Linked DNA regions of Homo sapiens: region 2 is linked to region 1. Evidence: fine-mapped expression QTL. Tissue or cell type: whole blood. Region 1 holds a variant in brackets; the other region holds the start of a gene. All regions are shown on one strand. Distances are from middle to middle.

Region 1 (7,536 bases):
GATAGTTCTTATCAGCCCAGACACAGCACCAGAGGAATCTGTAAACAAACCTTACACCATTGGTTTCTTCCCATGTATCTAACTTCCCACAGTTTCCCCCTTTTGGAAGCCTAAAATTGCTTTCTTCTGTCCTGTTATTTCTCTACAAATGTATTGTTCTTTTCTGAAGATGGCATATAAGCCAGAGTTTGACGCCACTGCCTTGAAGTTGCCTTTCATTGGGGTTTCTCCTGCATTCTGTGCCCTCCACACATTAATAAACTTGCTTGGCCAGGCATGGTGGCTCATGCCTATAATCTCAGTGGTTTGGGAGTCTGGGGCGGGAGGACTGCTTGAGGTCAGGAGTTCAAGACCAGCCTGGGCAACATAGCATGACCCCGTCTCTACAAAAAATTTTAAAAAAAATAGTGGGACGTGGTGGCACATGCCTGTAGTCCCAGCTACTTGGGAGGCTGAGGAGGAAGAATTGCTTGAGCCCAGGAGTTCAAGGCTTCAATGAGCTGTGATCATGCCACGGCACCCCAGCCTTAGTGACAGAGTGAGACCCTGTATCTGAAGAGAAAAACAAAATAAAAAAACTTTGCTTGTTTTTCTTTTGCTGATCTGTCTTTTGTTACAGGGGTCTGTCCCAACTATGAACTTATGAAGGTTAAGAAGAAATTACATTTCCTCCCCAATAATGGGAATTATCAGACATCAATAGTCTACTAAGTCTCTCTTCACCCAATGGCAAAGCCTACTTGTCTAATAGCCACAGCAGCTAAGCTAATGGCTTCCACACACTTGTTTTTTTTTTGTTTTTGTTTTTGTTTTTATTTTTGAGACGGGGTCTCGCTCTGTCACCCAGGCTAGAGTGCAGTGGTGCAATCTTGGCTCAGTGCCAGCTACGCCTCCCGGGTTCACGCCATTCTCCTGCCTCAGCCTCCCGAGTAGCTGGGACTACAGGCGCCCGCCACTGTGCCCGGCTAATTTTTTGTATTTTTAGTAGAGACGGGGTTTCACCGTGTTAGCAAGGATGATCTCGATCTCCTGACCTCGTGATCCGCCCACCTCGGCCTCCCAAAGTGCTGGGATTACAGGCGTGAGCCACCGCGCCCGGCCGACACACTCTTGGTTTTAAGGTCTCTTTTAAATTTGATGGTCCTCCATGCTGTACAATATTTGTTGCTCACTGAAAATATACAACAATTCTCAGCAAGTAGGGTTGCCACCAATGAAATCCCATTACTTTCTCCCTCACCTATTTCTATTCATTATAATAATACTTTGACTCCTGCCACTCTCCCTTTGGATGTCATGTTCTCAATGAGGCCATTTGGCCCATTGATTCTGCCCTAGGAGGAAGAGTTAGATAATTAATTCAAGGAAAAGGAAAACTGTGCCTTAATTTAGGAACCAAAACCCTAACCACTCAAGGGAGTTCAGTGTTGCTTTCTTTCCTCCTCGAGCCTTTGCAGTTCATGCTTTGCAGAAGGCCTGGAAAGTAGGGAGAATCTTACAAAATGTGGGACTGAGGATTTGCTGCAGAGCACTATGAGATGTGAGAGAGGTCAAAGATGACCCCAAAGTTTCTTGCCCAAGCCACTGGAAGGATGGAGAAAACTGCAGGAAGAGCAGGTTTGAGAGTGCAGTGAAGACCACGAGCTCACTTAAGATTATGCTGTGGACACTTCAAAGAATAATTAAGGATATTAGGAAGCATCATCTTCCATGGGGCATAATATTCCATGCTATCCTTACATTAGCTTTAGTTGCTGGGCATTTTGATTTTTGATAGTCCTGGAATTAATATATTTGAACATTCAATTTTTGTCTAAATCTGTGACTACTTCCTTGGGCAGGGAATTACTGGGTCAAAGGGCATGATATATTTTTTAAGGACTAACAGCTTCCATAAAGGCTGTACCTTTCATTTTTTCCCCAGAAGTTTATGAGTGCTCATTTCAACACCAACATTGTTATTATTTTAAAAAGTGTGTTGATTGAAAGAGAAGTATTTTTTTATCTTTAAAATAATGTTTCTTTGATTACTAGTGAGGGAGAACATATTTCTATGTTTATTACCCATATATATTTACTCTTCTGTGAACTGTTTTGGGCTGTCGAGTTTGAGAACCCACAAGTCATCTGTGTGCTCATGTCTAACAAACATCCGGAAATCCTGCTGAGGAATTCTCACCATTCATGCCTTCTACTAAAGATCTAGTATCCTGGGATAAATCTGTACTGATCCCAGACATATCCATGGCATTTACTTTTTTTTTTTTTTTTTTACTAGATCCTTGATATTCTAGTAATTTGCTCTAAACATGAGATACTAGAAAATATCCTTATCAGAAGGTTTTAGCCTAGGCAACATAGTGAGACCCTATCTTTACAAAAATAGAAATTAGCTGGGCATGGTGGCGCATGCCTGTAACTCAGGAGTGCTGTTGCCATACTCCAGCTATCATGAAATGTATTTCGACGTGGAAAAAGTGGGAGTTTGGTAACAATGGGAAAAATTCACATCACCAGAGAACCAAAACAAAGCTAGACATTATCCAAGCTACTCTCTTATCATATTTTTGCCTAGAAAATGAGGGGGAGGAGGAAGGGGCTAAGAAGTGGAAAATGACTTAGGCTTTCCCAAGTTTTCTGCTAAAGATAGGGGAAATAGAGAATTCAGAAAGTAAACTTTAATTGCACTACCTAAATAGTAGCCCTGTGGTGTATTTCCTAAGAAATAAACAGGCACATTGAGCTATGTGGACGGGCAGCATGGTGCATGAAAAAGGTGGTGAAAAGGACTCCACAGCACCCAACTCCAGCTCTGCCTCTCACGACCTCCCAGGCATGAGAGATCCTCTGGGCAAAGGCGGCCTCTCTTTGCCTGAGTTTCTTACAGTAAAATAGAAGCGCTTTTTGGACATCATTATGTGTATGGCTCGTGGGCACAGAGCCTCTTGACAGATGACTCATGGAAGGGGAAGTGTAAATGGCCAACAAACATGTGAAACATGCTCAACATTACTAATAATTCTAAAATACCTATGCTGCCGGACTGTTGTGAAGGTTCAAGCTAACTCAAGTGGAGCATCCGCACAGAACCTCACACGTGTCAATTCAGTGAGTGACGGTTATAGGTCAGAGGTTGTTAATGGAATTTTGACAGCCGGGGAGTTTTAAATAATCTTTGACATGGGGCCGGTAACAATGAAATTAGGTAAGGAGAAGGGGATGGGGACTGTGATATTGTTAAATAAGTAAGTTGTGTGAGGGACTGATTTTGTGGATGCCATACTGAGCAGCACCCTCTCATGGGGAAAGTGAGGGATCTGGGTAGAAGCCGTGAGCTGGAAGTTTGACAGTAGTGACTGGTCAGGTATCACCTTCCCAGCATTAGCTGGATCGATAACAGATGCTTCATAAATTGTAGTTTCCCTTTCCAAGTGGTGATGGTAACTGACAGAGAAGCGTAAAGCCATGGCTATGAGAAAAGCTCGTAGACAGCTGATTCCCTAAGATGGTGCTTCTCTCTTGAGGGTGTCACCTCTCAAGAGATCAGGGTAAGGTCCTGAAGGGAGCATTGAAATAGAGTCCTTATCATTTCCCTCCTGGAATCAGAATTCTGATTTTTTTTTCTGATTTTAGAGGGGTAGTGATGTGGTCTGGGGCTTTGGCCTGTGTTCTGCATTCAGCCTGTCTTGCTCATTTGGATTCATTGCTCATTTGTTTACTCGTGACTATCTGCCTACACTCATGAATATTGAAACACCACTGTGTGCATATAGAGAATCTGGCCAGA[A/G]GATTGCAGTTCAGGGACTCCTTCTGTCTCACCCATGGCTGACTCCTCACTGGATGAGAAGGGCCGTACGTAGTGGCTAACTGCTCACCAGTTAGTAATTACTTCATAGAGTGTTGATGCATAGGGATCACTCACTCTTTTGGCCACCTCCTCAGGAAACTGTAGTACGTCTCAAAAGCAGCTTAATAGATTAAAATGTCCCCAGAATCTACTGACACCATCTTCTCAGCCTTCTCTGTTACAGATGATGACACAGACCTGTAAGGCCATTATACCTGAGGTAGGCCAGTAAGAGCAACGAGTGAGGATGTGGGGTGCACTGTATCGAAAGAGGCCAGTTCCCAGGTGCATCTCAATCTAAGACAAGCCAGGATGGCCTTGAATTAGGACTCAGGTGGGACAAATGATGACTTCACAGTGGCAGAAAGGACTTTCAAAACAAGAATAGATGAGCGAGGTGCATGCTCACAAGAAACATCATGGGTCCTCTGCAGTGCCCATCAGCACAAGGGCCCCACCAGCCTGCCTGGACATACAGGACAGCCTGCAGACCCACACCCCCAGGTGCAACACAGAAGGGTGCAACTGCTCTGGGTTCCAAGATGGGCAGTTCAGAGTCTGGTCAGGGCTAATACAAAGTTAAACCCACACTAATGGGCATGGTATAACAGCTTAATGACAGAACAAAAAACCTGGTTTTGAGGGTACAGGGAAATGGGTTCTTTTAAACATGATTGGTGAGAATATAGTTTAGTACAGCCATTTTGGAGAGCAGTTTGGTTAAAAAAAAAAAAAGATTAAAAGCCTTTAGATTTTATATACTCTTTGACCTTAATTCCACTTCTAGGAATTTTATACTGAATCACTAATTATAGATATGTGTAAAACTTTAGATATTAGCATGTTTACAATAATGAAAAACTGGAAACCACCGAAATGTCCAACAATGAATTGTTAAATAAATTGTGACACATCCAAACAATGCCACTCTGAAAAGAGGGATGTTCTAGAATATGTAATGATGCTGGCACTGCTGGCTGGGTGACTCAGCTCCCATCCCAACACCCTTCTTCCTTACCTGTCTCCAATAGAGAGGCCAGTAACACAAAATGCCTGCTTTCTCAGCCTCCCTGAGAGTTAAGAGCCACCTTGAGACCGTAAAGCAACACAGCCGCCTAAGACAGCAGGAGTGTCCTTGGCAACGTCCTTGAGCTGTTCCACTAGCCTAGACCTCCTACTTTCAGACTCCTGCCTCACGAGCAAAATACCCCATTATTTGTTCAAGCCACTGTTGACAGGGTTTGCTGTTACTTGTTTCAAAACACAATCCCAATTGATAAAACACATGGAAAGATGTTTACAGTCCATGAAGCCGGGGGAAAACACAGTCACGCACCGCATCACAATGTTTACATCAACAACAGACTGCATGTACGACAGTGGTTCCATAAGATTATGCTGTATTTTTACTGTACCCTTTCTGTTTAATGTATGTATGTATACATGTATGTACGTATGTGTGTATATATGCATTTATTTATTTATGAGTGAATGAATGAATTAATGAAGGGGTCTTGATTTGTTTCCTAGGCTGGAGTGCAGTGGTGCAATCATAGTTCACCGTACCCTTTCTATGTTTAGATCTACGTACCTATCTATCAATTATATGCCTATCTATCAGTTATCTATCTATCTATCTATCTATGAATGATGGGATCTCACTCTGTCTCACCCACACTGGAGTTCAGTGGTACAATCATGGCTCACTGCTGTCTCTAACTCCTGGACTCAAGTGATCCTGCCGCCTCAACCTCCTAAAGTGCTGGGATTACAGGCATGAGCCACCATACCCAGACCATATATTTAGATACCCAAATACTAACCATTATGTTCCAATTGCCTACAGTATCCAGTGCAGTCACATGCTGTACAAGTTTGTAGCCTAGGAGCAATAGGCTATGCCATACAGTCTAGGTATGTAGTAGGCAATACCATCTAGGTTTGGGTGAGTACACTCTATGATGTTTGCACAATGGCAAAATCACAAGACACATTTCTCGGAATGTATCCCATCATTAAGCAATGTATGATTGTATTACAGAACAAAAATATACCAACAGTTGTTGAAGAAAAATGTGAAGTATATTCTAAAATTATAATTGTGGTTCTGTCTGATGGTACGGTTATATGGGATTTTATTTTCATATTTGGGTTTATCTGAATTTTCAAAATTTTCTACAGCGAATATGTCTTACTTTCGTGATGAGAAAAAAATATTAAAAAATAAAACAAGGTAGATAAATAATTGGATAAATCTTGTGGTCAGGCAGCAATGAGTCCTTGACAATAGTTGCCAAGATAACTACTTTAAGGCTTCTGTTGCTTTCTGTCCAGGAGGTTCAGACTTCCCAGCTGGAGCCCTGGTTTTACAAGGTCCCACTGGCTTCTAACTAGGGCCACTGAGGTCCACCTTCACCAGCGGACACCGGCAGCTGCACCGGCCTAGGAGGCCAGAGGGGCTCTGAGCTCTTTGTGGTGCAGCTCCTTCTCCTGGTCATGGGCCTTGCTTCCCTCCTCCTCCTCCTGTCTCTCATCTCTTGCCTTCTTGGCAGAATCAAATGAAATAACCAATCTGAAAGTACTTCATACATTATTAGGTGTAAAAAATGGCAAGTTATTTTCCTTGTAACTCTTTCTTCTTCATTCTTTTCCCTCCTTGTTTTTAAGTCTTTCACTTTTCTCCTTTCTCTTCTACCCTTGTTCCTCTTTCCACTTCCCTCCTCCCTCCTCATCGGGTCATAATGGAGAACATTCTGGGCCTCCACAGCCTCATACCTCTGTCATTTCTCACAGGAGCCTGCCTTGTACTTATCTGTCCACGGGTCTCTCTCCTTTGCTCCGCGGTGAGTCCTCTGAGCAGAAACCATGTCTTTCAACCCCTAAGAACCTTTTCATGACACTGTCTCACAGTACTCACCTGGTCAGTACTTACTTGATATTACTAAAATTTCTTTTATTGTTTTGTTATCTAGGGAGAGCATAATAGTAACACAAACCCGTACATTTATTTGTAAAATCAGCCATCCATATATTTAAGTGGAAATTTGTTATTAGCATCTTAAAAATTTTTGTGAAGTCATTTTTTAAGAACCAACAACTGAGAATTGGTAGAAAGATAAGTAGTTTGAAAACAATATTTTTTCTTCCTTACTGCAGTTGTAAAATATTGAGAACTATATTCAGAATTGAAATGGAAACCTTAATAATGATAATGTGGAAAAAATGAAATGTTTTATGGTAAAATATTAGAACTAATTTGTATTTCAAATTTGTATTATCCACTAAAATGGTTAAAAAAATCTGCCAAAAAAAAATCTATGAGATGTCAGTCACATTAAAAGTGCATGTAGTTGGGCTGGGCACAGTAGCTCACGCCTGTAATCCCAGCACTTTGGGAGGCCAAGGCAGGTGGAACATCTGAGGTCAGGAGTTCGAGACCAGCCTGACCAACATGGAGAAACCCGTCTCTACTAAAAATACAAAATTAGCTGGGTGTGGTGGCACATGCCTGTAATCCCAGCTACTCAGGAGGCTGAGGCAGGAGAATCGCTTGAACCCAGGAGGAGGAGGTTGCAGTGAGCCGAGATCACACCACTGCACTGCACTCCAGCCTGGGTGACAACAGCGAAACTCCATCCCAAAAAAAAAAAAAAAAAAAAAAAAAAAGAAAGAAGGAAAGAAAGAAGAAA
Region 2 (7,536 bases), 33 kb after region 1:
ATGAGGGATGAGGCAATGTGGTGTTGAAGAATAACTCTAGTCTGGAAATCTGGAGATCTAATCCTGACTCAGCCACTAATAACCACCAACATTCATCTGCCTAGTGTACACAGTTTACAAAGTGTTTTTACATACGTTCTGCATGGGTTGGGTGACCTTAGGTAAGTCATTTAACTCTTGGTGTCTTGTGTCAACTTTAGAAATGAGGGCATTAAACTATACCATCTGGGGTCACCTCCAGTGCTAACATCCTAAGCGAGGGAGACATGTGCCTTGGGACCTTTACAAATGTATCTGTAAGCAAATCAGGGCAGATGCATTCTGTTTTAAAAAACTATATTTTCTGGCCAGGCGCGGTGGCTCACGCCTGTAGTCCCAGCACTTTGGGAGGCCGAGGCGGGTGGATCATGAGGTCAGGAGATGGAGACCATCCTGGCTAACAAGGTGAAACCCCGTCTCTACTAAAAATACAAAAAATTAGCCGGGCGCGGTGGCGGGCGCCTGTAGTCCCAGCTACTCGGGAGGCTGAGGCAGGAGAATGGCGTGAACCCCGGGAAGCGGAGCTTGCAGTGAGCCGAGATTGCGCCACTGCAGTCCGCAGTCCGGCCTGGGCGACAGAGCGAGACTCCGTCTCAAAAAAAAAAAAAAAAAAACTATATTTTCTGTTCGGCTTCTGACAAATGTTACTCGGCTAAATTCAGGAATAGCTCATAAGACGTTTGCTGCCAGTTAGTTGGCTCAGTTTCTGGAGAGTACCACATTAAGACCCTGGGTTGGATTCTCATATGGGAACTTTCCTCCGTTCAATAGCCTCCTACTATGCCTAACTCCAGCCAGTCATCTTACAAATACAACCCCACAATGTGTGCTGGCGTGCAGGAAGGACTAGAAGAAACTCAGCTTCACAATGCATGCACTCTCAGGACGGTAGGTCAGAAACGGCATCATCACACAGGAATACTATCAATAGCATTCTTTCTCAGTTCCAAGATTCACAAATCCCTCCCTCAAGTCTTGCCATTTCCCGAGGGTTTTAATGTTTCTAAAATGAGGATGCACCTTGGAATCAGCATATATATTTTGATCTGGTAGCATTAGATTATTTTACCTAAAAGCTATTGGTAAATTGCTGGTGTGTCTTAGAATCAAGAATACAGTCCTACAAAACCTCAATACCATTACATAGATTTAGGTCTAACTTGGTTCAAATCATGTCCCTCTCCTTGATCTTAACAATTACATTCAGCAACAGCTGGATAGGCAATGTATAAGACAAGTATTAGTCCTGTTTCCTCATAGTAGCAGTTTAAAAGGCATTCCATCATTATCTCATAAAACACTGGTATGGATTTCAAAGGCAAATTAATCCATATAAAAACTACTCTGATCCTCTGAAAATGTACTATCCCATAGCAAACTGGAAAGGAACATTTTACTTACACCCTCCTGATCTATCTAGCCTTGACACATTTTCTTCCTCCTTAATTCACAACCCTCCACCCCAGTAATATCGCTGATTCCCAAAATACACTCAGCCCAGGAGGAGCAGCTCTCCAGTACAGCTGTCTGCTCCTGCCCTGCTCGGGTATTTTGGTGAGCTATGTGACACAGGACCACACAGAAGGAATGCCACTCTCAGGCCCCACAGTTCCCACTGCACCACAGGCAGGTGCATCCCACCAAACCCCAGTCTGGCATTCGAAACAGAAGAAACTGCCCTGCTGGATGGGGGCTATAGTTTTCCTGAACTTCATCTCTATGTTTAAAACTAGGGCGACAGCCGTCTTGGCTACTGTAAACTAATCTGATGGGCATGGGGGCAGGGAGTGGCTATGAGGAGGCTGCCAATAGGCCATGATTGAGCAAAGTAAAGAGTGAAATAGTTATTTCTCATTGTTTGCAACCCCGGAAACTCCAAATGAGTGGCTCCTTCACCATGATTTTTAGAAATGGACCATGCGTTCCTTTTACCATCTGGAGTAAAAATCCCAAAGCCTCTTGTGCGGTAGATCTGGCTTATATTTACACGTGCTTTCTAAAAGCACACTGAAATTTGGAAGCCAAATAAAAAAGAAGCTGACAATGAGGTCATATAGTAGTTAGGGGCCCTCAAGTTGAGACATGTTTATTAAGAGTTTCTGGCTCTGGGCACTAACTCTGACTTCAACTCAGTTCTTCTGGAAAAAGAAAACTGTTTGGGACCCTCTTCTATTCCAAGAACAGGGACTGCAAGATGGGCAGGTGGAGGGGTAGCAAACATAACCCAGGGAATTGTCCAAATATGCTAGAACCCCTATCTGGTGACAGCCCCACAAAGACACACAGCTGGAGGAGGCACAGTGTACAGGCCTCACACCTACACCATGGAGAAGCTTCGATTTTTCTCCTTCCTCTCAACTCTGCACACGTTATGTTAAAAACTCACTACTATCCAATTAGTTAATTTACAGGAATCCAAGATCAAGTCCTGCCACAGCCCCTTCATATATAAACAGTAAGCACTTCCTATGGATGGTATCAGGCCTTTTTCCAAACCTCACATTATACCAGGGTTGTAGTGCGATTTAAAAAAAAAAAAAAGCATTTTAAAGAGTTCCGCAAGATGCTTATTCACAACACCACACCGGAAGCGCAGGAACTTGGAGCTCCCAAACGCAACCTCTTCTCCCTTCCCTCCACTACTTCTACTCCCCGCTCCGCAACACCGGCCGGGCAGTAGCTCAGCCCACTAGAAGGCCACCAGGCACTAGCCGCGTTCATTAAACGCTAGATGATCACGATGGGGCTGAACCCTTCCCAGCCAAATCTATTCGGAAAGCCCTGCAAGCTCTGAGCAGCCAGTGAGAACTGTCCAGACCTGCTTCCCCAAACCAGCCAGGCAGGAGCGTGTGGGGAAGAAACCCGAGGCCCCCAGGCTGGGCCTGGCCCGATGTTCCCCCTCCCCCAAGTCTCCCCTCGCTCTCCTGTCACTCTTTTTCTGGCACATCACTGGGGAGATCCAGAGAGGCCGGGAGATGTCAGGCCTAGGAGGAGTGAGGAGGAGGGAGAAGGGATAAGGGCGGACGGGAGGTAGTTTGGAGAAAATATCAGCCCAGGGCAGAGGTGCGGTGGCCACGTCTAGTGGGGAAGGAGCCTCAAGGTGGACCCGGAGAGACGGAGGGAAGGGGAGGGGAGGGAAGGGGAGGGGGAGTGGCTGGGGAGGCCGGGCCGCCAAGGCCGGAGGGAACCCGGCGACAGGGATGGAGGGGGTTGACCGGCGCGGGGAAGGCGCGGTCGGGATGCGGGAGTGCGGGTGGGGAGGCAGGGGCGGGGGGAGCCCGGTTCCCCTCCCCCAGCCCGGGCCCTGGCCTCCCGCTGACTCAGCCCCACGGCGTCCGTCGCCTCGGCCCGGACTCACAGTGCACGAGGCGGCTCCGGCGGAGGCGGAGGGGGAGGGGACAGGTGGCGGGGGCGCTGCGGCAGAGGCTGCGGCTCCGGCCGGCGGCTCCGGGGCGGAGGGTCCTCGCTGAGGCCGCCGCGGTCTCCGGCTTCAACGCACAGAGACTGCGGGGGACGAGGGCACTGCGCAGGCGCGATGCGGCCGCCGCTGTCAGTCCGAGCGGGGCGGGGCCAGGGCACCCGCCGTCTCCAAGGCAACTGAGCCGCGGGAGGACAGCCCCTACCTCCACCTTGCCTTAGCGATTGCGGCGGGAGGCGGGGGGCGACAGGAACAGGCCCACTGCGTTGCCGTAGCAACGAGGAGAAGAGACCGCTTCAGACGTGTGCGGCGGTACCGAGGGAACGCGCCTACCTCGTCACCATAGCAACTGGGAACAGCCCCTTCCTTTTTCCCTGGCAACAGGGTAACAATCCCTCCGCCCTGTCTCATCACAGGAGGAACAACCGTGTGCACCTGATTTCAGTAGCTGGATGACGGATTTTCATCTTTTATGGCTACGGAAAAGGAAAAAGAGACGTTTTCTTCTCTTTCAGCGACATGGAAGAGCTAAGGCTGGGTTTTATCTCCTCTCTTGGTGTGTGGGTTCCAATCACAGTCTTTTTCTCTAATTCCCAAATTCATTTTTTTTTCTTTTTTTTTGGGACGGAGTTTCACTCTTGTCGCCCAGGCTAGAGTGCACTGGCGCGATCTTGGCTCACTGCAACCTCTGCCTCCTGGGTTCAAGCAATTCTCCTGCCTCAGCCTCCCGAGTAGCTGGGATTACAGGCGTGCGCCACAATGCCTGGCAAAGTTTTTGTATTATTAGTAGAGACAGGGGTTTCATCATGTCGGCCAGGCTGGTCTCGAACTCCTAACCTCAGGTGATCCACCTGCCTCGGCTTCCCAAAGTGGTGGGATTACAGGCGTGAGACACCGCGCCCGGCCCAATTTTTTTCTACCTGTTTTAAACATCCCCTTTCATCTCCTACCAGAGAGTGTGCCCTTTACCCTTAAATCGAGCTAACGAAATCGTCTATCCACAGACCACTTGAGTTTTTGTCAGCCTTATTGTCTCTCTCCCATTGCAAGGATAAACACCTCATTTCTTCATCTTGCTCACTATCTGGTTTGCAGTCCACTTCCTCATAACTAGCTCCCTCTGACATGTCCATTCGTTTTCCCGAATTTCCTCCTCCAAGCATGCTGTTATGGATCTCCTCGGTTCTTCTGGATCTCCCTTTCCTCTCCACACTTGCTGTCCTTGTCCAGCACTGCTCTGCCCGGGGCTCCAGTATGTTCTTTCCCCCTGTGACTTCAGCATCTTGGTTCTCTTTGTGCTGATGTCTTCTGGCTCTTCCTCCCTCAGCCCTGATTCCCATGGATGCCTTGAGGTCACCTTTGTACCAACCCTGTACATTCCTCCTTTCTTACACACACCTTACACTATCGTCATTTGTTTACGTGTCTGTGTCTCCAGACTATGTGACCCTGGTGGGCAGGAATTCTGTCTTTTTCATCAGCTCCCTCAGCATCCACCACAGCATGTGACACATAGCAGATTCTGAGAAATGCTTATGTAATTGAATCAAATGAAGACAAATCTTTTCCTTCTTCTTTTCTCTGGCCTAACTGCCTCAGAGTCCCAGTCCCCATTTCTAATACCTTTACACATAGTTTGTCTTTTAGTACTATGCTACTATTATAAGTCTTTCATCTCCTTAGCTTTCCATCCTGTTAATTGAGACTCTGGCATTCTCTATTTCCTGAATCCTCGCCTCTAGCTCTTCTCTCTTCTACACTATCCCAAATGTTTCTACTAAGGTAAATTTCCTCACTGGGTACCAACCCCGTGACTCCCATACCCTCCATAATCAGCGTAAGCTCTTCACACCTAACCATCCTGATCATCCCCTAACCAGCTCTAATCAAGCCTTCTTGGTGAACGTTACTGGATTCTGCTGGGCTTGTTGACATGCCAGAGATGCAGCATTCTCTTCAAACAACTCAAAAGCAAGAGCTCACAACCTAGCATTCTCTTCCAAATCTCCCTGTCTAGCTCCCACAGATTCCGCCGCAGGACTATTGGTGCCAAAGCACCCCAACTAAGCCCATTTTCTTGGGGAAAAAAGAAGAAAGTTACAAATAGAGTAAGTAAGAAAAGAGAGGGGACACAGCATATCCTCTCTTCTTCCACCTAAAGCAATTATCAGAAAGGAGAGAGCTCTTTGTAGACAATAATTCCCAAAACAAATCAAGGGGTTAGGAGAGTAAAAACCCAGGCTACACTTTTTTCTAGCCACAGAGTTGGACAACTGGAGCTGTTTCTAACTGCATCTGCAGGGTATCTGGGTGTCACCAAGGCAATAGGGAAGTCGCACGCTCAGTTTATCTTGCTTTCCCATTCTGAAGTTCCAGCTCAGCTTCATTGTTACAGGTATAGACTTGGGTGGTGTAGACTGTCCTGAGTAATCCTGAGAAGAAGCTATGATCCTTGTAACCCCACCCCTTTGTCATACACAAGGTAGAGGACCATTCTACAAAGAGTTCCTATATACCCTTCACCCAGATTCTCTACATATTAACATTTTACTATGTGCCATTAACTATTGCTACAAAATGAATCACTCCAATTCAGTGGTTTAAAGCAACAACCATTTCGTTATCTCTATTTCTGTGGGATGGGAATTCAGAAAGCCCGCAGTTGGATGGTTCTAGCTCAAGGTGTGAGTCAGAAGGTGGCTGAAACTTAAACAGCAGGGTGCTTGCTGGACGACTTTTTATGTTGTCTTAGTGCTTATAGATCATTTGTGTAATTTCTTTGCACGAATGTCTAGTCAAGTCCTTTGTCCATTTTTGAATCGGACCGTTTGTTTATTGTTGTTGAGTTTTAGGATTTCTCTATATATTCTGGATATAAATCCCTTATCAGATAATATATGATTTGCAAATTATTATTATTGTTATTGTTATTATTATTTTGGGCCAGAGTCTTGCTCTGTCACCCAGGCTGGAGTGCAGTGGCACGATCTCAGCTCACTGCAACTTCCACCTCCCAAGTTCAAACGATTCTCACGCCTCAGCCTCCCGAGTAGCTGGAACTACAGGCATGCACCACCACACCTGGCTAATTTTTGTATTTTTAGTAGAGACAGGATTTCGCCATGTTGGCCAGGCTGGTCTCAAACTCCTGACTTCATGTGATCCACCTGCCTCGGCCTCCCAAAGTGCTGGGATTAATGGCTTGAGCCACCCACCACACCCAGCCCCAGGACAGTTTTCTAATACTGTTAATTCCACTTCTTTAGCTTGTTTGTTTGTTTAAGACAGGGTCTTGCTCTGTTGCCCAAGCTGGAGTACAGTGGCGTGATCACGGCTCACCTACAGCCTTGACATGCTGGGCTCAAACAATCCTCCCACCTCAGCTTCCCAAGTAGCTGGGACCACAGGGGTGTGCCACCACACCTGGCTAATTTTCTTTTAGATTCTTTTTTTTTGTAGAGATGAGGTCTCGCTATGCTGCCCAGCCTGGTCTCAAACTCCTGGGCTCAAGCAATCCTCCAGCCTTGGCCTCCCAAAGTGTTGGGATTACAGATGTAAGCCCAGGGCCTGACCCTAATTCCACTTGTTGTTGTTGTCTTTGAGACAGGGTCTTGCTCTGTCACCCAGGCTGGAGTGCAGTGGTGTGATCATAGCTCACTGTAGCCTAGACTTCCTGAGCTCCAGTGATCCTCCCACCTCAGCCTCCTACATAGCTGAGACCATAGGCATGTGGCACATGCCAGCTAATTTTTGTGTTTTTAGTAGAGACAGGGTTTCACCATGTTTCCCAGCTGGTCTAGAACTCCCAAGCTCAAGTGATCCACCCACCTTGGCCTCCCAAAGTGCTAGGATTACAGGCGTGAGCCACCGTGCCTGGCCTCCACTTCTTAAATGCCTCTCAAAACTCTTCCCTTCTTTATCTGCTTCACCTTTACCATCTCTTGCCTGGGTTACTGCAGAGCTTCCCGCCTGCTCTCTCTGCCTTCAGCCTCTCTCATCTCCAATCCATTCTTTACACCATTGTCAGAAGGCTCTTTCTAGAAATAAATCTTATCACATAACTATCCTGCTTAAATCCC

Evidence for each region. PIP is the estimated chance that this variant, and not a neighbour inherited with it, causes the effect.
Region 2: it holds the start of MAPRE3, and the variant in region 1 is fine-mapped to the expression of MAPRE3 in whole blood (TOPMed, PIP above 0.99).

The regions. Positions count from the first base shown.
Region 1 is chr2:26,999,466-27,007,001 of GRCh38, reverse strand. The region is part of intron 1 of MAPRE3 (microtubule associated protein RP/EB family member 3); the gene reads right to left. The region is part of intron 1 of MAPRE3-AS1 (MAPRE3 antisense RNA 1); the gene reads left to right. Among named protein-coding and RNA genes, the nearest start is that of MAPRE3-AS1, 11 kb to the left of the region's middle. The variant A/G (reference allele first, on the strand shown) is at 3,788.
Region 2 is chr2:26,966,664-26,974,199 of GRCh38, reverse strand. It overlaps MAPRE3 (microtubule associated protein RP/EB family member 3), which reads right to left and starts at 3,563. Exons shown (of 7, transcript NM_012326.4): 1 at 3,398-3,563. RefSeq lists a silencer at 3,349-3,678.